Homo sapiens: one gene and its partners. The protein of the gene in region 3 interacts with the protein of the main gene of each other region in a biochemical or structural test. Each region holds a gene or a part of one and is shown on either strand. Other genes may lie near its edges.

Region 1 (7,024 bases), on a different chromosome or scaffold from region 3:
CCAGAGCAGCCCATAGGCCAGGGCCGGATTCGGGTGGGGACCCAGCTCCGGGTGCTGGGCCCTGAGGACGACCTGGCTGGCATGTTCCTCCAGGTAGCGTTGCTGCTGCATGTGGGTCTCCACCTGCAGCCCCTCTTCCTGCGTGCAGCCTTCGCTGCCGCCTCGCACGCACAGCGGCCTTTACTTGCGTGACCGCCTGACCCAGGCACGCTGCACACGCACAGCGGCCTTTACACGCGTGACCGCCTGACCCTGGCACGCTGCTTTCACGTAACACCCCCATGCTCTCAGATGGAGGCTAGGCCAACATTGGGGAAGGGGGTCGCCCTGCATCCTCCCTGCCATCCTTGCACACCCCTCTGCGCGGGGCACCCGGTTTGATGTGTACAGAAGCTGAGGTTGCAGGTCTCGCCTGAGGTCTGGCTGTTGGAGCCGGGGATCCTGCAGGCCTCACCACCTCCTGATGGAGAGCCTGGTGGTCCCTGGGCAGGCTCTGGACACCTTTGTTCTCTGGGGCAGCTCCTGGGTGTTGGGGTCCCTCACTGCTTCACATCACAGGTCTCAAGGGCCCTGGGCCCCTCAGGCCACAAGGTGGGGGCTACGAATGAACAGGGACACGATGGGACGCGGTTCTGGCACGGAGCTGCACCGGGCGCTTAGCCTCTCCGCTGCGCTCCTCCTCCTTCTCCTCCGCTTCCTCCTGACACTGGCCTTCCCCGTTCCAGATTTTCCCGCTCAGCCCGGACCCTCGGTGGCAGAGCTCCAGTCCCCGCCCCGTGGCCCTCGCCCTGCAGCAGGCCCTGGGCCAGGAGCTGGCCCGCGTCGTCCAGGGCAGCCCCGAGGTGCCGGGCATCACGGTGCGTGTCCTGCAGGCCCTCGCCACCCTGCTCAGCTCCCCACACGGCGGTGCCCTGGTGATGTCCATGCACCGTAGCCACTTCCTGGCCTGCCCGCTGCTGCGCCAGCTCTGCCAGTACCAGGTACTTGGGCGTGGGCCTCTTGCGGGGGAGGAGGGCAGTGAGGGCTCTGCCTCCCGCAGGACGGCCCGGGTGTCCTGTGACTGCTCCTCTGTGGGTCTTGGGTCTCAGTTTCCAAGTGAGAAAGGACAGTGCCCCAGGGAGTGGCGGCAGGTCCCCTTTTTCCAGTGAACATTCCCCCGGGACGGGAGGTGGGGGCAGTGCGGCGTCCGCCTGTTTGCACCACCCAGGCTCGGCGCTCCTGCCTTGCTTTCCCCATCTGCTGGTACCTAGGACTGTGTTTTACTTGGTGTCTGTGTTTACTTTTTCCTTTGAACCGCGTGGGAGCCCTCACCAGCTGGGGGGTTTTGAAAGGGTCTCTGTGAGGTCGTCTGGGCCCGTGCAGGGGAGGCACCGTTTCAGACAGGAGGCGGGATGAGGTTGGCCCAGGCTCCAAGTGCCGGTCGCGGCAGGTCTCAGCAGCCTCACGGGCCCTGCTCTGGGCCTCGGGTGCCGGGTCCCCGTGTGTCCTCTGCCAGGGTAGCCACGTGCCACTTTGTCCCCGCAGCGCTGTGTGCCACAGGACACCGGCTTCTCCTCGCTCTTCCTGAAGGTGCTCCTGCAGATGCTGCAGTGGCTGGACAGCCCTGGCGTGGAGGGCGGGCCCCTGCGGGCACAGCTCAGGATGCTTGCCAGCCAGGCCTCAGCCGGGCGCAGGCTCAGTGATGGTGAGGACCGCGCCGGGCTGGCAGACGGCTGGGGGGCACTGGACAGGGGCTCACTCAGAGTGGCCAAGCTGCCTGGCACCCCGAGGCCTGGGCAGTGGCTTGGGGGGTGGGTACCCGCGTGGGCCCAGGGGAGCCCTTCTACCGTGGGGCCTCCCTGGATGGGATACACCGATGGGGTGAGGGCTGGAGCCACAGGGCACTCACACAGACCTCCCACAGTGCGAGGGGGGCTCCTGCGCCTGGCCGAGGCCCTGGCCTTCCGTCAGGACCTGGAGGTGGTCAGCTCCACCGTCCGTGCCGTCATCGCCACCCTGAGGTCTGGGGAGCAGTGCAGCGTGGAGCCGGACCTGATCAGCAAAGGTACCTTCCTGGCACCATCCTCTTGGGCCACGGCGGCCCTGGGAAGACCCAAACCTGAGGCTCCTTCTAGCTGCCCAGTGGGGGACGGACAGTGTCTGCTCAGCACTGTCCCCGGAAAGTGCCCACAGAGGTCCCCTCCCAGATGGCTCAGGGCGGGGCCTCTTGAGAATGAGTTGGAGCTTCCTCCTTGGGGGGCCCCTGATCACTGCTGCACCCAGCAAAGTGAGCCCCGGCCCCGGCCGCACTCTCCAGCCCCGGCCGCACTCTCCTCTCCGGCCCCGGCTGCACTCTCCTCTCTGGCTCCGGCTGGACTCTGCTCTTGTGTCCCACACATGCTCACCCCACACCCCACCCTGGCTAGCCCACACCCACTCAGCGGCCCCCACCCGACCTGGGAGTGACCCACATGTCTCTTTGTCCCTTGCGCAGTCCTCCAGGGGCTGATCGAGGTGAGGTCCCCCCACCTGGAGGAGCTGCTGACTGCATTCTTCTCTGCCACTGCGGATGCTGCCTCCCCGTTTCCAGCCTGTAAGCCCGTTGTGGTGGTGAGCTCCCTGCTGCTGCAGGAGGAGGAGCCCCTGGCTGGGGGGAAGCCGGGTGCGGACGGTGGCAGGTGAGCTGGGGTGCTGCACACGGCCAGGGTGGGCAGGCGGGTGGCACCAGCCCTTCCCTGAGCCACCTTCTCCCTGCAGCCTGGAGGCCGTGCGGCTGGGGCCCTCGTCAGGCCTCCTAGTGGACTGGCTGGAAATGCTGGACCCCGAGGTGGTCAGCAGCTGCCCCGACCTGCAGCTCAGGCTGCTCTTCTCCCGGAGGAAGGTGGGTGGCACCCAGCTTCAGCACGGGGACCCACCCCAGGGTAAAGGCTCTTCCTGACCTGAAGTGCAGCAGCCTTGGCCTGGGCGAGCCTTGCAGGGGCCCCAGCACCCCCCCTGCTCTCAGGCCATGTGTCCCTGTAGCAACCCAGAGGAAGGGTAGGTCCCCCAATGGCCCTAGCAGAACCCAGGCCAGGGTCACAGTCACCTGTGGACCAGCACTGTGACCAGCCAGATGTGGGGATGGGGTGGGTGGATGGGGTGGGGTCGGCCCTGCCAAACCCTGTAGATCATGTAGGGGCCTCCATCTTCCCAAAGGGAATGGGGCTGTGGCCAGGAGAAGGGAGGGCAGGTGCTGGGCTCCCCACATCCTCCAGGGAGGGACGGCCTCACCAGAGAGGCTGCATGGAGCCCCGGGCACCTCCGCTGTGTGGCATGGCTCCCGTGGGAAGGGGCGGGGAGATGCAGCGCAGCCACCAGGAGCGGCCCTCCAGCACCATGACGGGGCCGGTGTTACCGGCAGCACCCCAAGCCTCGGCTCTCTGAGTGGCTCATTGGGGAAGCTGTCAGCTGACTTCAGCAGAGCCTGCCATTGGCCCAGGTGAGGCCATCCGGGCTTCTTCCTCCCTCCCCAGGGCAAAGGTCAGGCCCAGGTGCCCTCGTTCCGTCCCTACCTCCTGACCCTCTTCACGCATCAGTCCAGCTGGCCCACACTGCACCAGTGCATCCGAGTCCTGCTGGGCAAGAGCCGGGAACAGAGGTGGGCGCCTCCCTGTCCCCAACCTGGGCTGCGCGCATACTGGCCTTCACCAGAAATCTCCCAGCGCCGGCTCTGACTGGTATCTCCCATGCTGAGACGAGACACCTCGTGCTCTGGAACCTTTGCCTCCCCACAGGTTCGACCCCTCTGCCTCTCTGGACTTCCTCTGGGCCTGCATCCATGTTCCTCGCATCTGGCAGGGGCGGGACCAGCGCACCCCGCAGGCAGGTCTTGGGAGGGTGGCCCATCCGGGAGAGGGGGTGGCCCATCCGGGAGAGGGGGTGGCCCATCCGGGAGAGGCGGTGGTGCTCCGGGGCTGATGCAGGCACCCGTTACAGAAGCGGCGGGAGGAGCTGGTGCTGCGGGTCCAGGGCCCGGAGCTCATCAGCCTGGTGGAGCTGATCCTGGCCGAGGCGGAGACGCGGAGCCAGGACGGGGACACAGCCGCCTGCAGCCTCATCCAGGCCCGGCTGCCCCTGCTGCTCAGCTGCTGCTGTGGGGACGATGAGAGTGTCAGGAAGGTGACGGAGCACCTGTCAGGCTGCATCCAGCAGTGGGGAGACAGGTGCTCAGGCCCCCCGGCCCCAGATGCTGCCTGGGAGTGAGCCATGGAGGGGGTCGAGGCCCAGCCCTGGGTGGGTTCCCATCACGCCTGGTCCCGTCCACCCACCCCTGTCACTGGGGCCCCGTCCGCCTGGTGAGCCCTGCTCCACCTCTTCCAGCGTGCTGGGCAGGCGCTGCCGAGACCTTCTCCTGCAGCTCTACCTACAGCGGCCGGAGCTGCGGGTGCCCGTGCCTGAGGTCCTACTGCACAGCGAAGGGGCTGCCAGCAGCAGCGTCTGCAAGGTGAGGGCGCAACTCTGCCGCTCCCCGCCGCCGTCCCAGGTGCCCTGGCCGGGCAGGGAGGGAGGGCGGAGGCCACAGTGTACATGGCCATCGCCGGCTACCCCTCTTGCCCCTTCCCAGTCCGCGCCGCCCTGTGGCCCTGTGGGTTTGTCTGCGTTGAGTTTTATACCGAGGGAGCTTGCGGGTGCTCTGCTCGCACAGTCTGGAGAGTCGTGGTGTTGTGGGCACTGGGTGGCCTGCCATTGTGTGGATCGGCCGTTGGTTTATCTGTTCACCTGCTGGTGGACGTGGGGTCACGTTCAGTTTGGGGCAGTGACAGCTGCTGGGGACTCGTGCCCGGGTCTTGGCGGACGGCTGCGTCTGCTCCTCTCCAGTGACCCTGGTGGGGAGAGCTGGGCCTCCCGTACCCGCTTCCCCACCGCAGGCCGGAACCTGCAGCCTGTCTTCTGCTGGTACCACAGAGGGCAGCTGACTTTCTCTAATCATTTCTGCTTGTGGTTTTTTTCACTTATATGTCATTTTATTTGTTGAAATCACACTTGATGTGCAGTTTTGTGGAGGGTTTTTGAGGCAGGGTGTCTGTTGCCAAGGCTGGAGTGCAGCGGTACCATCATAGCTCACTGCAGCCTCAACCCCCTGTGCTCAAGTGAGCCTCCCACCTCAGCCTCCCGAGTAGCTGGGATCACAGGCACGTGCCACCACACCCAGTTACTCTTTTTGTATTTTTGAAAATAGAGAGGGCTATTTTCATTGCCCAGGCTAGTCTTGAACTCCTGGGCTCTGGTGATCTTCTGCCGCGGCCTCACAGAGTGCTGGGATGGCAGGCGTGAGCCACTGCGCCTGCTTGGCCGATGTGTAGTTTTGGCTTGTTTCCCGCTCATTGTATCATTTGGTGTGGAGCTTTGCTTTTATTCTGTATGGGGTTTTCCCAGAGGCTGGCTGTGGCCTGCCTGCCCTCCCGAGGTGCTCATGGAAGCCGTAAGGAGCCAGTTCCTCTGCTCATGGCGTGCCACGCGGTGGATCACGGCCACAGCTGGCGGCCAGGCTGAGTGTGGGTGGGCAAGTGAGGGGAGCCAGCGGCCCCGGCCTCAGAGCGCCCCTCCCTGCAGCTGGACGGACTCATCCACCGCTTCATCACGCTCCTTGCGGACACCAGCGACTCCCGGGCGTTGGAGAACCGAGGGGCGGATGCCAGCATGGCCTGCCGGAAGCTGGCGGTGGCGCACCCGCTGCTGCTGCTCAGGTGCTGTCCCAGAAGCCCTGCCCTCGCCAGACACTGGTTTAACCAGGGGGGTCTGCGGCTCTCCAGCCTGGGCAACAAGAGCAAAACTCCAAAAACAACAAAAAAAAGCATGTTCCCATGGGCTGAGCTTGACCGGGGGAAGTCAGGACTGAGCTGGGCCTCAGGTGGGAGGAGCTGGGTGGGCCTCAGAGAGGGGCGATCTCATCCCCACCTCCTTAGGGCAGGAGGGTGGTTGGGGGGCAGCACGGGGTCTGGCTCCCGGGGCAGGCAGTGGGGCCTTCCTGGGGACGTGCGCCAGGTGAGCCCGCCGGCCGGGGCTGACTGGGCCCTCACCGCGCCCGCAGGCACCTGCCCATGATCGCGGCGCTCCTGCACGGCCGCACCCACCTCAACTTCCAGGAGTTCCGGCAGCAGAACCACCTGAGCTGCTTCCTGCACGTGCTGGGCCTGCTGGAGCTGCTGCAGCCGCACGTGTTCCGCAGCGAGCACCAGGGGGCGCTGTGGGACTGCCTTCTGTCCTTCATCCGCCTGCTGCTGGTGTGTGCTCCCGCCGCCCGCCCTCGCGCTCCCTTCCACTCCCTCTGCTCTGGCCCAGGCCTGCCTCACCCACTCGCGGAGGGACTGGGAGGACCTCTGCAGCCAGGGCCCAGGCCAGGCCACCTGCCCTGGGGACCAGCTCCCACCCTGGGAAGCCCCTGCCTGCTGCCCCTCACGTGCCTGGGGGGCCCACGTCCTTCAGAAGCCCAGCCCAGACCCTCCGTGCTGTTCTCTGCGTGTCGCTTGTGCTACCTCGAGCCCCTCATCCATCTGGGCACATGCCCCAGACAGCCATGTCCACACCCTGACAGGCCATGCCGGCCACCCTTGGGCCTGTGACGCCCCAGTGGTTGGCAGAGGGGGCTCGTTGGCTGTGGGGTCCATGCCCTGAGGCTCTGGGAGCAGATGGGAGCACAGGCTCTGTTTTGGCCCTGCGGGGCAGAGCAGCTCGAGGGTGCCGCTTTTGCTTTGCAGAATTACAGGAAGTCCTCCCGCCATCTGGCTGCCTTCATCAACAAGTTTGTGCAGTTCATCCATAAGTACATTACCTACAATGCCCCAGCAGCCATCTCCTTCCTGCAGAAGCACGCCGACCCGCTCCAGTGAGTGCCCACGGGCTGCAGGGAAGCCTCGGGCCTCCGGCGAGGGTCCAGCGGGGTCTGGAGGGTGTTCCTGGGAAGGCCGTGTCGTGTCAGATATGCTGCTCCTGAGGCCGGGGAGGGCTGCTGAGCGTGGTGCTCATCCCAGGGCGCAGAGGCCGCCCCACCCTGTGCCGAAGCCGT
Region 2 (7,024 bases), on a different chromosome or scaffold from region 3:
ATCTCCTTGTTTTCTTGAAGCTTATTCAGTTATAACTGAGGGCTTCTCTACTGTAAATTACAATAGTTACAACATGAACCTTGCATTCCAGAATTTCAAATGTGAATTTTAAAAATTGCTGCAATCTATAGCATGGAATTTAAGGTATAAAGCAGAAGAGTATAATAACAGGGGCATTAGAACATGACTGATAAGTTTTATGAACTTAATGGCAAGATTCTTAAAATTTTGGGGCTTTGGGCTTTGATTCCACCTGTAAAAATAGGGTGTGTTAAATCAGATGATCCCAAAATTCTTTCCAGCTCTACAATCACGAATTCATATGAGGTATAAATGTGTGTCAGCAATCTGAGATGGAAAAAAAAAGCAAATTTAAATTTTTTTCTCTTTTCTCTCCTATCTTGAAAGTATGGTTTTGTCTGACAAGAGGCCTATAATGATACCTGTTTTAATCAGAATTCATTTGAACTCTTAGGATAGTTGTTTTGGCTTTTGTACTGTTAGTCAATTTTTATTAATATTTTTTAAGAAATTATACGTTGATTTTAGATCTTAGTCATTACGAAACTGTTGGCACATACCTATTTCAAGTACCTTAATGGAGAGAAATGCTGATATGTATTGATAGTGGGATTGTGGTAGGAAATTTTGTTGAAGTTTATTGTTAGAGACTTTTCTCAAAAATTAAGAAAATTGAACCTATGAGCTGAACTGCTTTTGAACTATTTGAATTACAATTTCTACTACTTTTCTCTGCTTTTTTAGGAAATGTGAGTTCTTCTCCCAGATCTTCTGATTTAGTCAAATTAGCCCAAGAGTGCTGTTACCATAATAACAGGGGCATTGCAGCTCATGGAGTTAGAGTCCTAACTAATATAACTGTTTCTTGTCAAGAAAAGGGTAAGTTTGATCAGGACTGATATTACGTATAAACTTTGGTTTAGACCTTGGACAGAATTCTGTTTGATTTTTTTTTAATCCCTTATTTTTAGCCTGTGTGCCTTGATCTACAAATTGACTCCTTTCAAAGTGTTCTTAGAGCATGTGTTCTTAAGACTACTTTATCCTTGTGAAAAATAATAAAGAGATGAAGACCTTGGGAGTGGAATTGAAAGGTTTTATGGAGCATTGCCCATTTCCTTCCACTGCTTACCTTTGCATATATGGTGCATATATGGTGGATAAAGATTGCTTAGGACTCTACCCCTTTTGTATAAGGTGGTATGTTCACTTATACAAAAACCTAGAAAATTTACTTAGGTTCTCCAGGGACTTAAATAACAAATAGTTTCACCTAGAGGCAAGTGAATTCACAGACCAATGTGAATTAAATTTTCACAGAATTTACTCTAGGTATATGTGGCATTAAACTGACTTGCATAATCAAGGAGGACATGCAAGGAAAATAATGCACATATTTTGTTGTCTACCTAACATCTTTTGACTTGTGTTCAAGAACAAGAAATGCATTTTGGATATTCCATCTGTTTCAGTGCTGATTTTGATCTTCATTAAGGATTACAAGCTCAGTGGTTCCTCTTATCCCCCCTAGCCTTCAGCACTGCTTGTTCCTAGTACCTGTTTTTTTCTAGCAACCTGACCTTCACTAGCCTTTACTCTGTTTGCCAAGCTCCTGCACTCAGGAAACATTTCTTAAAGTTGAAAGTTGATTCTGATTTGGATAATTAAGCCTGTTTTATATTGGCATCACAAAGAGTATTTTCTTCCATGTAACACAGAAAACTGCTGTATGTTCTCAACACTGAAATATATTAACCTAAAGGTAACTAATATATTCAGAACTTTCTAAAACCTTCAGAGAAATTTTAACCCTATGGTAGTGAAAAGATGTTCTAGTGCTGCTATTTCATGAGACATCTAAGAGGTTCATTCTTTATGGTCAGACTTAAAACAGTAATAAGGTTATGTGGAGACCTTATTATTTCCTAAAAGTGGTTCAGCTTTCATTAGAAGCTGAAAACTGTTATATCTTAGGTAAAAATGGACCTGCATAATTTATTTCTGATTAGGGAGATTAACACATACTGCATAGTTTGCTGTTCTTAGTATTTTCCTTAGCTAAGCTGGTGACACTATTTCAGTTTTGCTTTATTTATAGCTTTGTGGCTTTAGCTCTTGATTTAATGTGTATATTTTTATAAATACTTCAATAAAGTGGTAGAAATAAAGTCTGAAGATAGACTTTACATTCTAGAAGTAATGCCACATGTACTTTTTCAAGGAAGGTTAGGTTCATCCATTTAATAATTCCCTATATCTTAAACTCCTTAATGTTTTTTCTAAGAGAGTGTGTATGCATGTATATGTGTGTGTGTTTGTACACACATCACTTGACCATCATAAAGTTTACTGTTTTTCTTCTAGATCTTTTGGCACTGGAACAAGATGCTGTCTTTGGCCTGGAATCCCTACTGGTACTTTGTAGTCAAGATGATAGTCCAGGTGCTCAGGCCACTTTAAAGGTGAAAACTTTTATTTATTAAGTTGTAATAGATATATATGATGGTCTTAGGCAATAGAAAGCAAAGTTAAGCAGACATAGCTCCTGTACTCTTAGAAGTTTTAATCTAAGTGATTAAATCTAACTGATAAAACTACACTGATTTAATCTAACTGATAAAACCACAAAAAAACTGATGACATGACTGCAGCCGACTCATAAATGTTCATTAATTTAACATAAGCGTTCATTAATTTCCCAGTGGTATAAGCCCTAGTTTATAAGCCAAGGGAAGAATATTTTAAGGAATTTTCACCTTCACTTAGTTACAGAAATCATCTTAGAGATATGCAAGATTTTTAAAATGTGAAATGAGGCCAGGACAGTGGCTCTCATGCCTATAATCCCAGCATTTTGGGGCGGTCAAGGTGGAAGGATTGCATGAGCCTAGGAGTTCAAGACCAGCCTGGGCAGCATACTGAGACCCCATCTCTAGAAAAATTTTTTAAAATTTAGCTGGACATATTGGGGCACACCTATAGTCCTAGCTACTCATGAGGCTGAGGTGAGAGGATTGCTTGAGGCCGAGAGGTTGAGGCTGCAGGGAGCCATTATTGCACCACTGTTCTCTACCCTATGTGAAAGAATGAGACCCTGTCTCAAAAAAAATAAATAAATAAAATGTGAAATGAAACTACTCTTTTTGGAGTGAAACGTGAAATATAATTTGTGATGGTGCAAAATTAATGAGGAGAAGCATAGTTAATAGAAGTAAGAAACTGTTAGATAAACATTGGCGTTAGCTTGTCTAAGGTGTGGTTTCAAGGAAGTCATGGCTCATTTTAGCAGGTTAAGGAAAGTTGTGATATGGTCATAGTGATGAACAATAAAGATAGTAACATCATTAAGTGACAGCTAATAAGAAGTAGAGAAGGGAAGTAGACAACATGTGTTTGGCAACACATTCTGAGGGGGATCCTCAGAATCCCCTTGGAACCACAGTACATTTAAGACTTTTTTTAAAAGCAAATCTTTTTTCCAACAATTGTGGGTGTCAGTAAAATGCTGGATTCAGCACAGTGGGACATACATAGATGGCCAAGAAAGGTTCCTGTAATAGAGGAGCTTCCCATCTAGAATAGGCTACTGATGTTTATATAGGGGACTATAATACCAAGCGGAACACAATACATTCTCTGATATTTCACAAAAAAAGTGCAGTTCTAATGAGAGGTCAGAGTCGGGAGTGATTAACTTTAACCAAGGGTATTAGGGAAGACTTTAAATAAATGTCATATGAGTTGAGTTGTGAAAGATGGAATCGAATTACAGTAATGAGGAAAGATTGTTTGAGCCCAATGACTGCTGTTATAAAAGACTTGAAAGTAAGAATGTACCTGTTGTGGTGGAAGAATGGTGACTAGCCCACTGTGGCTGGGTGAAATAATTTGAGATTTGGAAAAGTAGTTCAGTCATAGAGGATATCAAATAACATGGTATTATGGCTTTGATTCTATAGGTAATGAGGAGATAATATAATTTTAAAGTAATGGTAACCTTTGTCGTAATTATTATTGTTATTTGAATGTCTATTATGTGCCAATCTTTGTTGAAGACTTATATATACATTTGTTTCAGTCCTTCAATAACCCTATAATGAAATGTGTTCTCCTCTTATACACATCAGAAACTTAAGGCCGAGAGAGAGAAGTACCTTGTTCAAAGCCACCTAGCTAATAAGGGGCAAGCTGAGCTTCAGCCCTTGCATTTATCAGACTCTAAAGTTATGTGTGTGCCTGACACCCCACTGATGGCTACATGGCTGCATTGTGAAGGATGGATTGAAGGGCCCATCTTTTCAAGAAATTGGAATTAGGAAGAGATTTATGATGTGGTAGAGAGAATGGAAAAGTGCCAACAGTGGATATTGGAGGCTTGACAAAAGAATCTGTTAGCTATGTAAAAGTGGGAATATTTCTAGGTTTCTAGTTTTTTGGCTGGATATTAGTGATGCCTTTAAGAAGGCCTTGGTAAGAGAAATTCTGTAGCCAAATTGGTTTTTAGATTTCAGTTGAGAAATAAGAGAAAATTGGGAACCTCTTTCCCACTTCAGTGTACTTAGAGTCATCTAAGCCGTCTTTTTAAAACTGTGAAACCTCAGTAGCCTCAACACACACACACACGTATGTTAATTCAGGAATCTATATTTTTATTTTCATTCTGGGAGATGCTGGCATAGTTTACAAGCCACACTTCAGAAGCAGTTCCTGAAAAGTAATGATAATACAGTGATGGTGACATTTGGCCTATATTTGCCTCTTCAGCATTATTCCTTATGATTTCCATCTTTCTTAAAAGTATTTTAATAGTCTTAGATTGAAATGAGTGGTTGACGTGCAGTCCTAATTTGTTATTTTAAACGTAGTGCACTTCACAAACCCTAATGTGAGATTCAGTACCTCATATTTCTTATGAAGTAAAATGTTATGCCTACAAGAAACCTCACCCTTGAGTTTCCCCAGTAACCTGTACAAAGCTCTTTTCCTTAAAGCTTCATCTGTATCTTCAAAATGTAACTAGTTCATTTTCTTTTTGGCGTGCAGATTGCTCTAAACTGTATGGTGAAGTTGGCCAAGGGCAGGCCCCATCTTAGCCAGTCAGTAGTTGAGACCTTGTTGACTCAATTGCACAGTGCTCAAGACGCTGCCCGGATTTTGATGTGCCATTGCCTGGCAGCCATTGCCATGCAACTGCCGGTGCTGGGTGATGGGATGCTTGGTGACCTCATGGAGCTGTACAAGGTGATTGGACGATCAGCCACAGACAAGCAACAAGAACTTCTGGTAAAAAGCCCATTTTGAATCTCCTTTGAATGACTAGGATCTGGTCTAGTGGGAATTACTTTTAAGTCAACATTACTATTTGACTTTACTTAAAAAACAGAACAAACAATAGGTTAAATTCATTACCTAAGACCAAAGAGTGTGCTGATGTCAAAATAGAATTGGCTTTATGAGCTTTTTACTTTTTTCACTTTTGATTTAGAAAGCCGTGTTTTGTTCACCTCTAAAACTGCTTTCTTCCGAAACCCTGTCAAATCAGCCTAGTATAGCCAAAGCCTTCAATCTCATGTTTTTTTTTATTGCAAAGGACAGAATGAAAATGAAATTTTTATCTTTCTTATACAGAGTAAATAATGAACTAAACCCTGTTTTGTACTTTAGAAAATAGAAGTTAAAAATCTAATGATAATAATGACCATAAATTAGCCCAAATTTATGTTTTCCATTCCAGGACCTCTTTAGCTGTTTAGGATCCAGTTTAGGCTTCTGTAGACCCTTGAGGTTGGGAAAGGTACATGCTTAGAAAGAAACAGAAGCTGTGGAAGCTATAAAATGTTTAGTTGAAAAGTTCTGCAGGACTGAGAGTAGGCTACATTCTAAATAATTGTAAATTAAATGAAAGTTGTAAGGTTGCCATTCCATATTGTTCTGTTCATCTTAATTTAGAATGTGGGAAAAAATATAATGAAATAATTTATTCAAGCCTGTTTTATGTTTAATCCTCCAGAGGGAATTGTGTAAAAGATTGACCCCATCCCATCATTTGCTGCCAGAAAAGGTTACCTTGATGACCAAATGTATGGATCTTTATATGAATCAGCTTTGAAATATTAAGAGGCAGTTAGCTAAGTTTATTTTTTATTGAAGTGGCATTTTGAACTAACGGTCCTGATATCTTTTTTGTGAGTACTACCTTAAGATTGTCTTAAATTATGAAACATAATATTCAAAAAATCTGAGGAATAATACAGTGAAAACTCTTGCATTCATTATCTAGCTTAAGAAAAAGGTATTAACAGTTTAGTTGAAGCCCCCTGTTTACCTTGCTGATAGCATCTCCTCCCTTCTCTCAGGTAACCACTATCCTGAATTTGGTATTTATCATTCTCATGCCTGTTATTCTTTTACTACCAAAGTGTATATCCCTAAGTAATATGCAGTATTTTGCATATTTTTAATTTTATGTAAACTTTATCATACTACTTGTAATCTTTTGCATTTTGCATATTTTTGCGTATTTTGCTTGTCATCTATGTTGGTAAGTCTGTCGCTAGTTTATCCATTTTATTTACGTATCTCATTGTTTGATTATGTTATATAATTTATTCATATTATGGGTATTGCTTCTACTTCTTTGCTGTTATAAAGAGTGCCCTGAGTGAATGGAATAAATTAATGACTTCAAAATAAAAAATTAAATAAATGTCATTGGAAAACAAATTTTGTTCTTTTGCAGTGGGCTCTAATTAGTTTTCCTCCCTTTGGGGTAGGTTATCAATGACACTGAATAAAATTAAATGATTTTCTTGGTTTTCTTCTTGCCCAATGTTAGGTGAGTTTGGCTACTGTGATTTTTGTTGCAAGTCAGAAGGCATTGTCTGTGGAAAGTAAGGCAGTAATTAAGCAGCAGCTTGAAAGTGTCTCCAATGGATGGACTGTATACCGTATTGCCAGACAGGCTTCCAGAATGGTATGTGTTACCCTTCTGAGTGAACTGGGT
Region 3 (7,024 bases):
CCCAAAGTGTTGGGATTACAGGCATGAGCCACTGCACCCGGCCTAGAGCAGTATTTCTGTATTGATGTTTTTTAGGAATTTAACATCCCCTTTCCAGTTTTCATTGTTAGCCTCAGAATACTTAGAAAGTTCCTTTCTAACCTGTACTCCCACTGTCTCCCAGGTGCCTGAGCCCTGGTGCTTGTGCAGGGCCCCCAATCCAGGCTCTGCCCCATCCCAATAGCCCTGTCCTGCCCTGAAACTGCCCTTGAGCTGGGCTTTTGTGTCTGTGGAGGCGGGGACTGTCATCCTCTCTGCCTCGTCTCTGTTAGACAGCACAATTCGATGTCAGCCCGCCACCTGACGTTGTGTATCTGTCATCCTCTCTGCCTCATCTCTGTCAGACGGCACTGATTCGATGTCAGCCCGCCACCTGACGTTGTGTATCTGTTTGCTTAACCAACCCTGGCATATGTGATCATTCTAGTCCCTTGACCTCCAAATTTTCATTCCTATGCGAAGACCTGGCATCGAGATTTGTGGTTGGAGAGGCAGGAGGCAGGCGTGTGTCCCCACAGTAGCCAGCTGTGAAGGATTTGGCCCTTTTGCCTCTGAGTATCCAGGGAATGGCCAGGGCTCCTGGGGAACTCAGCGACTGGACTTTCGGGCCCAGAACCCAGGAGGGCAGGCGTAGGGACGGGATGGCATCAGGGAGGTGGCAGTCGAAAGGACCCGAGTGGGCAGAGGAATGTGAATAGCCCCACCCCACGCACAAGCTCAGCAGCTCTGCGGGGCCACTGGTTTAGCGGCAGTTCTTGACATCAGCGTCAGCATCTGAGGTTGATAATTTTCTTAGGAGCTTGCTTGTGTTAATCCTACTAATAATTTACAAAATCCTAAGTCACTTGACTATTATGCCCATATTTTTGCCTTTTGCCATTTCTTCCTTTCCATCAGCTCCAGAGCCCCTTCCTGTCAGCTCCTCTGAGCCTTTTTGACAGGGCAGGCCGCTCCCCGCCCCTCCGCAAAGACTTTTTAATATTCTTTTATATGCTTTGACGTTTCTTGCCCACTGTATTCGAGGAGTTTCCCCATTTCCACCCGGAAGTCCGTCCTTGCTGATGTAACACCATGTCAGGTGTGGCTTGTTTTCCCGAGGAGCCTGGTGGCCACAGCCTCAGCTTCAGCCACTTCCTGGTTCTCGGTGGCCAGTCCCCACAGACTGTGAGACCTATGCTTGCTAATGTTAACTAAGAAGAGAATCTGAAAGTATTTACTTCAGAAACCTCCTTTTTGCTAGTTAGCGCCAGAGTGAGTAGATTAATCAGGGCAAAAGAGAATGAGAGGTGCTGTTAGTGTGTTACAGGGAAAAGTCACCCGAAGGCAGAATGATAGGATCGAATGGGGACATGCCCAGGATAGGCCCCAGTGGTGGGTACTGTGGTTTGCATGGAGGTAGCTGGAGGTCCGCTTAGAAATTCTGCATCAGCACTGGGTCTGGTTTTTGTTTTTTTGTTTTTGAGACGGTCTGGCTCGGTCGCCCAGGCTTAAGTGCAGTAGTGTGGTCTCAGCTCACCACAGTCTTGACTTCCTGGGCTCAAGCTATCCTCCCACTTCAGCCTTCTGAGTAGCCGGGACTACGGGCGCACACCCCCACACCTGTCTAACTTTTGTATGTTTTGTAGAGACAGGGTCTTCCTATGTTGCCCAGGCTGGTGTCAGACTCCTAGGCTCAAGAGACCCTCCTGCCAAGACCTCCCGAAGTGCTGGAATTGCAGGCATTAGCCACACAGCGCCTAGCCTGGTCTGTTTACAGAGTCAGCAAATTCTGGCCTTTAGGCTACCCAGCCTTGTTTGTACATGAAGTTTTATTGAAACATGGTCACGCCCACACGGTCAGAGTTGGGTTTCGTCCCCGTGGCCCGTAATGCCTAAAATAGTGACTCTGGCGCTTTAAGAAACAGTTTGGGAACTCCTGCCTGAAGGAGAATCGGAAACAGCACTGAAGATGTTACTGAGGTTTAAATGCGACCCAAACAGAAAGGGCTTCGGGGCGGTTGGTGTCCGTCTGATTAACCTGCTGTCTGCTGGTTACATGTGGATTAGAATCTTAAACTGTTACGCTTGGCAAGATGAATGACTACAACTTTTCATTATTATTTTTTGTAAATTATGCATTTTCACTTGTAGAAATCTCTTTCCTTGTGGAGACTCAATGGTTTGCATTATTGATGATCGAGAAGATGTCTGGAAGTTTGCCCCCAATCTGATAACTGTGAAGAAATATGTATACTTCCAGGGCACGGGTGATATGAATGCGCCCCCTGGGTCCCGAGAATCTCAGACGAGAAAGAAAGGTGGGTAACCTCCTTCCTGATTCTCTAGAAGAATTCACATTTGCTTATTGTTTAGCTCTTCTTATTTCTTATCTCTGTTTTGACTGCTATAAATTCAAGATACACTTTTTTTATTTGTGTTTCAGTAGAGATTATTGGATTTATTTATAGAGTACTGAAAAACAGGATATTAGGTTGTTTCAATTTGGGCTTTAAAAAAAATGGCCCTCACTTAAGCGTTTTCCCAGTTGAATAAAAACTAGAGGATGCTGTTTAACCTAACACATCCGAATAACTCCCTTCATCCCAGTTTTCCTTAAACACATCCCTGGGTATTGGGCCATAGTGTTCTGTAGAGAGAGTGAATGTGGGGGCGGTGGCTCTGCGGGGAATAACCGTTCCCCATGCGCAGTGGTCAGGCTGGGCGCTGGCTGGGGCCCCAGAGAGCAGCGTGGTTTAACTTGTCAGTCAGGCATGCAGCTGACGTCCACCCTACGAAAGTTAAGTGTTTTTTGATCTTTAGTTTTTTGAAAAATATTTTGAGGCACACGTTTATTGCTGTAGTCACTAAAATGGAACTTGGAGGTTAGGACCAGGGGAGGGTGAAACTAGGGGCATTCCTGTAGAAGGTAGAGACTTTCACCAGATGGGTGGGGTCAGCGTGGAGTTGCTGACTTCCTCCAGACCGTGGCTTGGGAAACCGTGGCCATGGTGGTGCCAGGTCATCCGGGGCTTACAGTCACGGTGGCGCCAGGTCTGCAGGGGCTTACGGCCACGGTGGCGCCAGGTCTGCAGGGGCTTACGGCCACGGTGGCGCCAGGTCTGCAGGGGCTTACGGCCACGGTGGCGCCAGGTCTGCAGGGGCTTACGGCCACGGTGGTGCCAGGTCTGCAGGGGCTTACGGCCACGGTGGCGCCAGGTCGTCAGGGGCTTACGGCCACGGTGGCGCCAGGTCTGCAGGGGCTTACGGTCACGGTGGCGCCAGGTCTGCAGCCCGGAAACCTCTAGTTGTCCTTACAGGTGGAGGATCCCTCCTCCCCCAAATCCAAAGCTTTTTGAGTGCCCACATGGTGCTTAAAGGAAATACTCATTAGGGTATTTTGGATTTTTTGGATTGGGGATGTTCAGCTGGTAAGTTTAACGCAAATACTCCAAACTCAGAAAAAAATTCAATATCCAAAACGTCCCTGGTCCCACGCACTTCAGGTAAGGGGTGCTCACCCTGTCCGGCCTCTTCACAGCAAGGTTGCCAAGGCCTGGTCTAGAGGGTGGTGGACTTCACAGCCATGGAGAAGGGTGCTGCTTTAACTTGGAACGTTATTTAATGTTTAATGCTAAATTGCGGTAACTTTTCCTTTTGCATGCATATTTAGTAAATCATTCTCGAGGCACTGAGGTCTCAGAGCCATCTCCGCCCGTGAGAGACCCTGAGGGGGTAACGCAGGCCCCTGGAGTGGAGCCCAGCAATGGCCTGGAGAAGCCTGCACGGGAGCTGAACGGCAGCGAGGCCGCCACCCCGCGGGACTCACCCCGCCCCGGGAAGCCAGACGAGAGGGACATCTGGCCCCCTGCCCAGGCCCCCACCAGCAGCCAAGAGCTGGCAGGCGCTCCTGAGCCCCAGGGATCCTGTGCGCAGGGTGGCCGGGTGGCACCGGGACAGCGGCCTGCCCAGGGTGCCACGGGCACTGACCTGGACTTTGACTTATCCAGCGACAGCGAGAGCAGCAGTGAGTCCGAGGGCACGAAGTCCTCCTCCTCCGCCTCTGATGGCGAAAGCGAGGGGAAAAGAGGCCGGCAGAAGCCGAAGGCTGCCCCAGAGGGAGCCGGGGCGCTGGCACAGGGCAGTTCCCTGGAGCCGGGGCGGCCTGCAGCACCGAGTCTCCCCGGAGAGGCCGAGCCTGGCGCGCATGCCCCGGACAAGGAGCCTGAGCTGGGTGGGCAGGAGGAGGGCGAGCGGGATGGCCTCTGCGGCCTGGGCAACGGCTGTGCCGACAGGAAGGAGGCGGAGACCGAGTCACAGAACAGCGAGCTGTCGGGGGTCACTGCGGGTGAGTCCCTGGACCAGAGCATGGAGGAGGAGGAGGAGGAGGACACGGATGAGGATGACCACCTCATCTACCTGGAGGAGATCCTGGTCCGTGTACACACTGACTACTATGCCAAGTATGACCGCTACCTCAACAAGGAGATCGAGGAGGCGCCGGACATCCGCAAGATCGTGCCGGAGCTCAAGAGCAAGGTGCTGGCAGACGTGGCCATAATTTTCAGTGGGCTACACCCGACAAACTTCCCGATAGAGAAGACGCGGGAGCATTACCACGCCACGGCGCTGGGAGCGAAGATCCTCACTCGGCTGGTGCTGAGCCCCGACGCCCCTGACAGGGCCACGCACCTGATCGCCGCGCGAGCTGGTGAGTGCTGCCTCCCTGTGCCCTGGGCATGGTCAGGCCCGCGGGCTCCTTGCAGGCACTCCTTAGAGTTGGCATTGCTGTTTATCTCACTTTCAATTTTCAGAAACATTTCCCAGAATCACCATCTTTTAAGAATAGATCATGACAGTGGGTGAAATTGGAGTTTGGGCACGTTCATGCTTTCAGACCGCAGTCATCGCACACACCATTCAGGGGTGGGAGTTACTCGTGTGTAGAAAGTTCAACCTTCTCCCTGGAGTAAGCCATGGCCGGGTTGGAAAACAGGGAATCAGCGATAGGGACGTAGTGGAGAAATTCGAGGCAGGAACAGGAGTTCGCAGGTAAAAGATTGACAAACCCTCTGAGTTAGAAAACTAAATGCAAGGTTTCAGCTGAAACGTGCACAGAAGGACACGTTGTGGCTGGGAGGGCGGAGGACAGGCCTGCTGTCTCCCGACGGTGAAACCTGTCCCGGACGGGGCAGGCTGCTCTGACATGTTGAAACTTCCGCCGAATAAAACAACCTTTCAGCAATAGGTGATTCTTGAAGGAAGACTTAACACCCCGGTGCTTAAAAAACCCAAATACCTCGTTATTCTAGTTATTCTGTGAAAATGCTCCCATAAGCACCTGGATTTTCCGCGAATGAAGATTGCGGTTTTTCTCCTCCAATCTGCTTCCTGTCCTGGCGGCGTTTCCTGAGAGGGCTTCTCAGTGCGTGGCCCCGCCTCCGGGGCTCAGGAAAGCCTTGTGGGGTGAGCTCATCCCTGTCCACGCACGCTCCCTGACAGCAGGTGTGGTCTTATTTGAGGCCACGGCTCTGGCACGTATCATGGGGCGTTGGACACGCATGTGCTCAGTAAAGCATTTGAATCAAGGGTAAATGGAAGGTTCCATCTCAGTGTGAAATAGCCAGGTGCTAGCTGCAGGGCAGAGGCGGGCTTTCCGTGGAGCCCAGCGAGACCCTTGATCCCAGGAGAAAGCCAAGCCCTGGCCTCCTGTGGGCAGTCAGACCCTTCTCTCCTGAGCGTGGAGCCGGGCCAGGCCGGGGTCCTCCTTGGCCCCTCAGGTGCCTGTCTGCCCTGCCGCGTGTCTGCCCAGCTCCTGACCCTTCTCTCCTGAGCATGGAGCTGGGCCAGGCCAGGGTCCTCCTTGGCCCCTCAGGTGCCCGCCTGCCCTGTCCTGTGAGTGCCCAAGCTCCTGGCCCTTCTCTCGCATTCCTTCCTTCCCCCTGAATTGTGCTCACGTTTCCTTTTTGCTTCTGTGTACGTGGCCTCACTGTTGAGAGGCTTTGCTGAACACATGCTAAGAGAGGTCCTCCTGCTGCTCAGGTCACCCGCTGTGCCCGGCTCCCCGTCTGAGATCCACCCCTTCCCACCATGGCTGCCTATCCCTGGCCTGGCAGATGGGAACCTGCAGTGGGCAGCCCTGGTGGGGTGCAGCCGGGTGAGGGCCCTGGTGGGGTGCAGCCGAGTGAGGGCCCTGAGCCCTAGTGGGGTACAGCTGGGTAAAGGCCCTGAGTCCTGGTGGGTACAGCCGGGTGAGGGCCCTGAGCCCTGGTGGGCTGCAGCCGAGTGAGGGCCCTGAGCCCTGGTGGGGTACAGCTGGGTGAAGGCCCTGAGTCCTGGTGGGTACTGCCAGGTGAGGGCCCTGGGCCCTGGTGGGGTGTAGCCGGGTGGGGGCCCTGGTGGGGTGCAGCCGAGTGAGGGCCCTGAGCCCTGGTGGGGTACAGCTGGGTGAAGGCCCTGAGTCCTGGAGAGGTGCAGCCGAGTGAGGGCCTTGGTGGGGTGCAGCCGGGTGAGGGCCCTGGTGGGGTACAGCTGGGTGAGGGCCCTGAGCCCTGCAGGGGTGCAGTCAGGTGAAGGCCCTGGTGGGATGCAGCCGAGTGAGGGCCCTGAGCCCTGGTGGGGTACAGCCAGGTGAGGGCCCTGGTGGGTGCAGCCGGATGTGGGCCCTGAGCCTCCAGTGCTGGCCGGAACAGCCTGACGCAGCCGGGTCTCCTGCAGGCACAGAGAAGGTGCTGCAGGCACAGGAGTGCGGACACCTGCACGTGGTCAACCCTGACTGGCTGTGGAGCTGCCTGGAGCGCTGGGACAAGGTGGAGGAGCAGCTCTTCCCGCTCAGGGACGATCACACCAAGGCACAGAGGTGGGTCCTCGCTGCACCCAGCAGGTCCGTGCCAGGCGTTCCCTTGCTGGACAGCTGTTGGTTCATGCACCTGGGCAGTGCCCCTCATCACCCGGACGCCCCGCTCATGGCCCTCGTTCTCTTCCTCCGACAGGGAGAACAGCCCTGCGG
Region 4 (7,024 bases), on a different chromosome or scaffold from region 3:
CAAAGTGCTAGGATTACAGGCCTGAGCCACCGCGCCCAGCCTTGTTTTTATTTTTTTTTTTGAGACGGAGTCTTGCTCTGTTGCCCAGGCTGGAATGCAGTGGCACAATCTTGCCTCACTGCAACCTCTGTCCCCCAGGTTCAAGCGATTCTCCTGTCTCAGCCTCCCGAGTAGCTGGGATTAGAGGTGCACGTCAACACACCCAGCTAATTTTTGTACTTTTAGTAAAGATGGGGTTTCATCATGTTGACCAGGCTGGTCTCGAACTCCTGACCTCAAGTGATCCACCCACCTTGGCCTCTCAAAGTACTGGGATTACTGTCGTGAGCCACTGCGCCTGGCCTCTCGTTGTCTTTTATCAGTTTTACGTGCTTGACGTGTAGGTATAGAGCCTGTCTGCAAAAGAAAATTACTGTATGTGAAGTCTGATAAAGTAACTGATTGGTATCTATCTACACCCCATCCCCGCCCCAACACACACAGAAATACAGGAGGATTGAGAAATGAATTTTGAGGAGTCATGTAAAGAAAGATAGAAGGTTAAATCTAAGTTGCTTGTAGCTAAGCAGGATTTTATATTTTGGGTGCAAGAATTTAAGAAGAAAGTAATGTGTTTAAATGCTTAGAAAGGAAGGATCAGAATGTAGGAAGTGGGACCAGCAGTAGTGAAACTAGTGAGGAAAAGTTTCCCTCAGCCCATATGGGCAATTTCCCTTGGTTCCTGTGGAGCATTTGGCTACAGACACAGAAGCAAAAGCATTTAATCAAAGTGTTTAAGAACTGGGTTTTTGGCTGGGTGTGGTGGCTCACACCTGTAATGTCAGCACTTTTGGGAGGTCAAGGTAGGGGGATCACTTGAGCCCAGGAGTTTGAGACTAGCCTGAGCAACATAGGGAGGCCCTGTCTCTACAAGTAATAAAAAGCATTAGACAGGTGTGATGGCACATGCCTGTGGTCCCAGCTACTTGGGAGGCTGAGGCAGGAGAACCGTCTGAGTTTGGGGGTCATGGCTGCAGTAAGCCATGGTTGTTTCACTGCACTCCAGTCTGGGTGACAGCGTAAGACTGTCTCAAAAGAAAAAAAAAAAAAAAAAGAAAAGAAATGAGTTTTGGGGCCTGGCACGGTGGCTCAAGCACTTTAGGACGCCGAGGCGGAATTATCACTTGAGGTCAGGAGTTTGAGACCAGCCTGGACAACATAGACCCTTTCTCTACCAAAAAAAAAAGGTTTGTTTGTTGGATTATTTTTTTTTTTTGGAGACAGAGTCTTGCTCTTTTACCCAGGATGGAGTGCAGTGGCGTAGTCAAGGCTTTCTGCAGCCTCAACCTTTCAGTCTCAAGCGAGCCCCCTACTTCAGCCCCCAAGTAGCTAGGACCACAGGTGCATACCACCATGTTTGGCAAATTTTTAAAACTCTTTTTGTAGACCCTGGGTCTCACTATTTTGTCCGGGCTGTTCTTGAACTCCTGGGATTACAGGCATGAGCCAGCTTGCCCGGCCAAAAAATATTTTTAAAATTAACTGGGCATGGTGGCATGCACCTGTAGTCCTAGTTACTCAGGAGGCTGAGGCAGGAGGATTGCTTGAGCCCAGGAGTTCAAAGCTGCATGAGCTGTGATGGCACCACTGCACAACTCTTGCTCTCTTCACCACTGTGAAAAGTCTTGCTCAGTTGCTCAGGCTGGAGTCTTAAAAAAAAAAATAATAAATGGGTTTTTAAGCATTAGTTTGCTCATTCATTTATCACTGAGAGGCATTATGCTACATAATGAAAATACAAAGAAAAGTAAATCCTAGTTTTTGCTCTTGAGAAACTCAGTCTGATAGAGAAGAAAATGTATGAAAAGTTATCATATACAAACCTGTGTGAATCAATATTTTGGGAATACAGGGGGAAATCAGTGAAGGCTTCAAAAAGGAACTGACTAAATTTAAAAGGTACTAATGTCCGTCTGACCCACAGGCACCTGTTTGTGAAGTTTAACAGTGGTTATGTTTTGGAGAGAAGGCAAGGGAGTATGTTCTTGTAGCATTGCAGCAAACCACATCTATGGATGGTGGATGATTTAATCAGTCTTTGAAAAGGGTTATGGCAGCTGTTTTCAATGTGATAAAGCTTAATTGTAATCATGAAGATTATTTTGGAAAGAACCCATTTTAGTGATAATCCAACGTAAGAAGCTACTCAGAAGCAATTGAAAGGATTAGGTTGACTGGAAAATTATAAAACTGCCTAAATGTTCATATCGAGGTGATGTTTCTGGGGAGAAACACACCATTTTGTAGCCTCATGACTCATCAGTACACATGGTATTTGTCTCACTGGGGAACTCACTGTCTAAGTGGAACAAGGTTTTCCTTTTTCTTTTTGTTCTTTTTTTTTTTTGAGGTGGAGTCTCGCTGTGTCACCCAGGCTGGAGTGCAGTGGTGCAGTCTTGGCTCACTGAAACCTCTGCCTCTGGGTTCAAGCGATTTTCCTGCCTCAGCCTCCCAAGTAGCTGGGATTACAGGCGTGTGCCACCACGCCCAGCTAATTTTTGTATTTTTAATAGAGACGGGGTTTCACCATTTTGCCCAGGCTGGATTTGAACTCTACTGGCCTCAAGTGATCTGCCTCTCTTGGCCTCCCAAAGTGCTGGGATTACAGCTGTGAGCCACCATGCCCAGTGAAACAGAGTTTTTCAAGCATTCTCTCTCTCTATCTCTAGTTTTGGTTGAAAGCTGTCATTCTCTGGTGTGAACCTGGGAGGTGGAGCTTGCAGTGAGCCGAGATTGCACCATTGCCCTCCAGCCTGGGTGACAGAGCAAGACTCCGTCTCAAAAAAGAAAGCTGTCATTCTCTGGTCCCATCCCTTCATCCCTCTCCTTATACCAAGATCATTGCTTTTCATTTATTGTACTGAGCTATAATGGGTATTTTCTCTATTAAAAATATTGCTTAATATTTAAAATGAGAATCAAAGATAAAATGTTTAGTTCAAAAAAAAGGCATACTTGTCACTTTACTAAATTGTAAAATTTTTAACTTCTTTTTAATCTGTATGCAGGCAATTTTTTTTCCATCACATAAAGGTCACTGAGATACTGTGTCATTTATTTAGACCCCAAATTTTGTTTTTACAGCATGATAGTAGTATTGTTACTTTGAAAGGATTGTTCTTGATTTCTTTTTGGGGTGTTTGTGCGTATTTCAGTACTTCCAGCGGCAATGTAAGCAACAGAAAGGATGAGACAAATGCTCGAGATACTTATGTTTCATCCTTTCCTCGGGCACCAAGCACTTCTGATTCTGTGCGGTTGAAGTGTAGGGAGATGCTTGCTGCAGCTCTTCGAACAGGGGGTAAGTCCAGTGCATGTTATTTCTCAGTCCTTTGGTCACCACCCACAACCACTGCCATCTCCAACTCCATATTGCTGTTTGATGAGTGTTACCCTGTGGATAGCCCACCCACTGCTGCTTAGCTTGGGGAGAAGTTGTTGCTGATACGGGTCTGTTAAGGGGGAGAGGAGGAGGAATACTGGGGCATTTGCTTATTACTATGTAATTGTAAGAAATAGATTCCCTCTAATACATGGATGTTTTCCCTGATTTCATAGTAATGTACACTTTTTTCTCACAAATCTTTTGTTTCCCCACAATTTAATCTGCAAACTACATACCCTGATCTTATATTGAGAGTTAACAATACTGAATTGTTGAATAGTATGACATATAGTATGAATGTTTTCCATTTTCTAGTTAGAAAAAGGGAGGGTGAGTCTTGATTTATATATGGGAGCTTAATTTAATTTGAAAGTATCCAGTCTTAACATGTAACATTTGGATTTAAAGTTTTATATACAGGAATATTTGTTATTTTATACGAATTCATCCTTTTTCTTTTCTCTCATTCTGCACCATGGCTAGTTTGACCTGATTTTCTCCTTACTCTGCCCTTTCTACTTTGATTTCCTGACTGTCTCTTTTATTTTTTCTGCCTAGTTTATTTCCTTCTATCCTCTTGCATATTTGTATAGCAGTCTTCTGAGTGTGTCTGTATATGTGATTGGCAGATTAACTAAATGATTTCTTTGCATTGAAGCCTGAGTCACAGGAGACTAGACAGTTCTTTCTGTAACTTTCTCTACTCTGCTGGAGCAGCCAGAATTTATGGAGTTACGAAAAATGAATTGCCTGCTAGATCAGTTACTTCCTGTGCCTGAGGGATCAGGAATCATCAGTGCAGGAGCACTGTGGGTATCAGGTGAAGCCCAGAAAAGAAGTCTAGCGGGCAGTGAAGTGATCAGATTCTAACGAACTAAACTGAACGGTTTCTTTATGTCAGGCAAATGGGGTTTAAGAAATAGGAATGCAGTTTAATTACCTGGTATTAGAATTTTCTTTTAATCTGTTACAATAATTTGACAATTCTTTATGCCTATTTTTAGATGACTACATTGCAATTGGAGCTGATGAGGAAGAATTAGGATCTCAAATTGAAGAAGATATCCTTTGTGTGTATATTCATAATTGTTTTTTTTAATAAGTAATATTTATTGAACATATGCAAATGCCAGGCACGGTTTTACATGCAGTAGTCCTTCCAATGAATTAGGTGCTCTCATCCCATTTTACAGAGAGAAAACAGAAGCAGAAGAGGATTGGTCATTGTTCTAGATCACACAGCCTGACACTGACAGGGCTGGGATTCCATTGTAGGGAATTTGGCTCCAAGCCCATGACCTTGACCACCACGCTAGACTTTTTCCTTCATGTTGAAGCTGAATGAACTAGAAACAGCGAAGTTTAAAAGGACCTGGCTCTTTGGAAACTGAAACATATAAATCCCTAGTAAAATTGCTTCAGATAGCAGGAGAGTGAAAATATGATTGAGAACAAGAAAGGCAAACCGATAACATAATTAGAAGAGATTACAAAATACATGAGAACATTGGGTGTATCTCGTTGGCAATTTGAAAACCTAAAGAATTTCGCTTTCCTAGCAAAACATGAGTGTCCAAGATTGACTTTATGTACTTGGCAGGACAGGCTGTGTTATATTATGGTGACAACCTTGAAATTTCAGTGGCTTAACACCACAGAGGTTTCTTTCACAGATTAAACTGGACAAACAGGAATGTATTTGTCCTATATGTTCATCACAGGCTAGCTGAGGACTCTGGGCTTTGGGTCATTGTCCTCTAGGACCAGGCAGGTGGATTGGCCATTGTGAGTGGTGATGTGGCAGAAGGTAAAATGGATAAATTGCATACTGGCTTTCAAAACTACTGCTGAGGAGTGACATCTATTACTTCTGCTACCAGCCAGAAAGGTCTCTTGGTGTCACACAACTTCAAGTGGTCATAATTGTTTTAAGTAATCTGCTAGCTTAATTTTTCCTGTTGGTATAGAATTCAAAGTCTTATTCTTCACTTTTTATCTTGATTGTATTGTTTTCTTGGAAAGGAGAGGGACATCTATGTCATTTTATTTGTCTTGTTTTTCCTGTTATTGAAAAGGAAAGTACAGTATTGATGGCATTTATGACATTTAAATTTTTCTGCCTTGTAGATTGAGACTGTAGTGTCTGAATTTAAGTTGTGCAAAAGGGCATGGAAAGCACACACATATAAATGTGAAGACTTCTCAGTTAGGGGGACCTCAGAGCACACACAGTCACCTGAGCTCATTATCCCAGAGGAAGCGTGTTCTTGCTAAGCACCGGGAAAGGGCTCCAGGAGAGGGGTACTGTGTGTGAGTAGGGGCAGGGAGCATCTAGGTGGCTGTGTAACATGAGATTGTCCTGGTTGAGGAAATGGCCTTATTAGGAAGGGAGCTGTTCCAGGGTTCAGCTTTGGCAGTGGCCTCTTCTGCAGAGAAGAAGAGCCTGCTGAGGTAGCTCCTGCTGAGCTGGGGGAGGAGAGGAACCCTCACGGCCATGCTGAATGGTCTCTTCTCAGAGACCCTGTGGGAACTGTGTGACCAGAGAGACTTTAGGATCCTTAGTAGAATTCGGATTTGGGCAAGTAAAGCTTGAATAAGTTCAAGCTCCTTTTCAAACATGTGCTTTCTCATGTTGAGTACTTGAGTTACTTTTTGAAACCCTGTTGACTTGCATACTGCTGGCACTAAACATTTAGGAAATAAAACATGACTAGGCCGGGCGCGGTGGCTCACGCCTATAATCCCAGCACTTTGAGAGGCCGAGACGGGTGGATCACCTGAGGTCAGGAGTTTGAGACCAGCCTGGCCAACATGGTGAAACCCCGTCTCTACTAAAAATACAAAAATTAGCCGGGCATGGTGGCAGGCGCTTATAATCGCAGCAGCTACTCGGGAGGCTGAGGTAGGAGAACTGCTTGAACCCGGGAGGTGGAGGTTGCAGTGAGCTGAGGTCCAGCCTGGGTGACAGAGTGAGACTCCTTCTACCCACCTTCAAAACAAACAACTACTTTACAGTGTAAAAGTAATATCACTATTATTCGCCAATTACAGCTCAAGGAATTAGATATAGTACCTTGTTTTTAACATACTCTAAATTGGAAACAGTTGTCGTGAATTGCTTAGAAATTTCAGGTTTGTTTTTTTTTTTAAGATGGAGTGTCCCTCTGTCGCCCAGGCTGGAGTGTAGTGACCTGATCTCAGCTCGCTGCAACCTCTGCCTCCCAGGTCAAGTGGTTGTCCTGCCTCAGCCTCCCGAGTAGCTGGGACTGCAGGCACCTGCCACCATGCCTGGTTAATTTTTTGTGTTTTTAATAGAGACGGGGTTTCATCATGTTAGCCGGGATGGTCTCGATCTCCTGACCTCGTGATCCACCAGCCTCAGCCTCCCAAAGTGCTGGGATTACAGGCATGAGCCACCGTGCCTGGCCTCAGGAATTCTTATTTTGGCAGAACAGGAAAAAAAAGTGATCTTACTTTTGTAATTTTGCCTTTTTTCCTTAACGGCCTGGTACCTATATATCAAGAAATAAGGAATACAGACATGAAATACAAAAATAGAGTACGAAGTAGGATATCAAATCTTAAAGATGCAAAAAATCC

Evidence for each region.
Region 1: the proteins of CTDP1 (region 3) and INTS1 form a complex in vitro, tested with the Homo sapiens proteins (one study listed by BioGRID).
Region 2: the proteins of CTDP1 (region 3) and INTS7 form a complex in vitro, tested with the Homo sapiens proteins (one study listed by BioGRID).
Region 4: the proteins of CTDP1 (region 3) and TCEA1 form a complex in vitro, tested with the Homo sapiens proteins (one study listed by BioGRID).

The regions. Positions count from the first base shown.
Region 1 is NC_000007.14:1,473,386-1,480,409, reverse strand, and holds part of INTS1 (integrator complex subunit 1), read left to right. Parts: coding exon 1-93; intron 94-725; coding exon 726-980; intron 981-1,524; coding exon 1,525-1,684; intron 1,685-1,903; coding exon 1,904-2,044; intron 2,045-2,473; coding exon 2,474-2,657; intron 2,658-2,736; coding exon 2,737-2,860; intron 2,861-3,491; coding exon 3,492-3,616; intron 3,617-3,752; coding exon 3,753-3,840; intron 3,841-3,954; coding exon 3,955-4,181; intron 4,182-4,338; coding exon 4,339-4,462; intron 4,463-5,571; coding exon 5,572-5,705; intron 5,706-6,049; coding exon 6,050-6,242; intron 6,243-6,716; coding exon 6,717-6,844; intron 6,845-7,024. UniProt on the Homo sapiens protein: Component of the integrator complex, a multiprotein complex that terminates RNA polymerase II (Pol II) transcription in the promoter-proximal region of genes.
Region 2 is NC_000001.11:211,976,552-211,983,575, reverse strand, and holds part of INTS7 (integrator complex subunit 7), read left to right. Parts: intron 1-765; coding exon 766-900; intron 901-2,385; coding exon 2,386-2,483; intron 2,484-5,064; coding exon 5,065-5,304; intron 5,305-6,031; coding exon of another isoform or gene 6,032-6,130; exon of another isoform or gene 6,131-6,744; intron 6,745-6,856; coding exon 6,857-6,994; intron 6,995-7,024. UniProt on the Homo sapiens protein: Component of the integrator complex, a multiprotein complex that terminates RNA polymerase II (Pol II) transcription in the promoter-proximal region of genes.
Region 3 is NC_000018.10:79,710,803-79,717,826, forward strand, and holds part of CTDP1 (RNA polymerase II subunit A C-terminal domain phosphatase), read left to right. Parts: intron 1-2,169; coding exon 2,170-2,336; intron 2,337-3,688; coding exon 3,689-4,726; intron 4,727-6,732; coding exon 6,733-6,874; intron 6,875-7,007; coding exon 7,008-7,024. UniProt on the Homo sapiens protein: Processively dephosphorylates 'Ser-2' and 'Ser-5' of the heptad repeats YSPTSPS in the C-terminal domain of the largest RNA polymerase II subunit. This promotes the activity of RNA polymerase II.
Region 4 is NC_000008.11:53,984,430-53,991,453, reverse strand, and holds part of TCEA1 (transcription elongation factor A protein 1), read left to right. Parts: intron 1-3,194; coding exon 3,195-3,340; intron 3,341-4,428; coding exon 4,429-4,485; intron 4,486-6,936; coding exon 6,937-7,024. Other genes in the region: LYPLA1-TCEA1 readthrough, read left to right, coding at 3,195-3,340, 4,429-4,485, 6,937-7,024.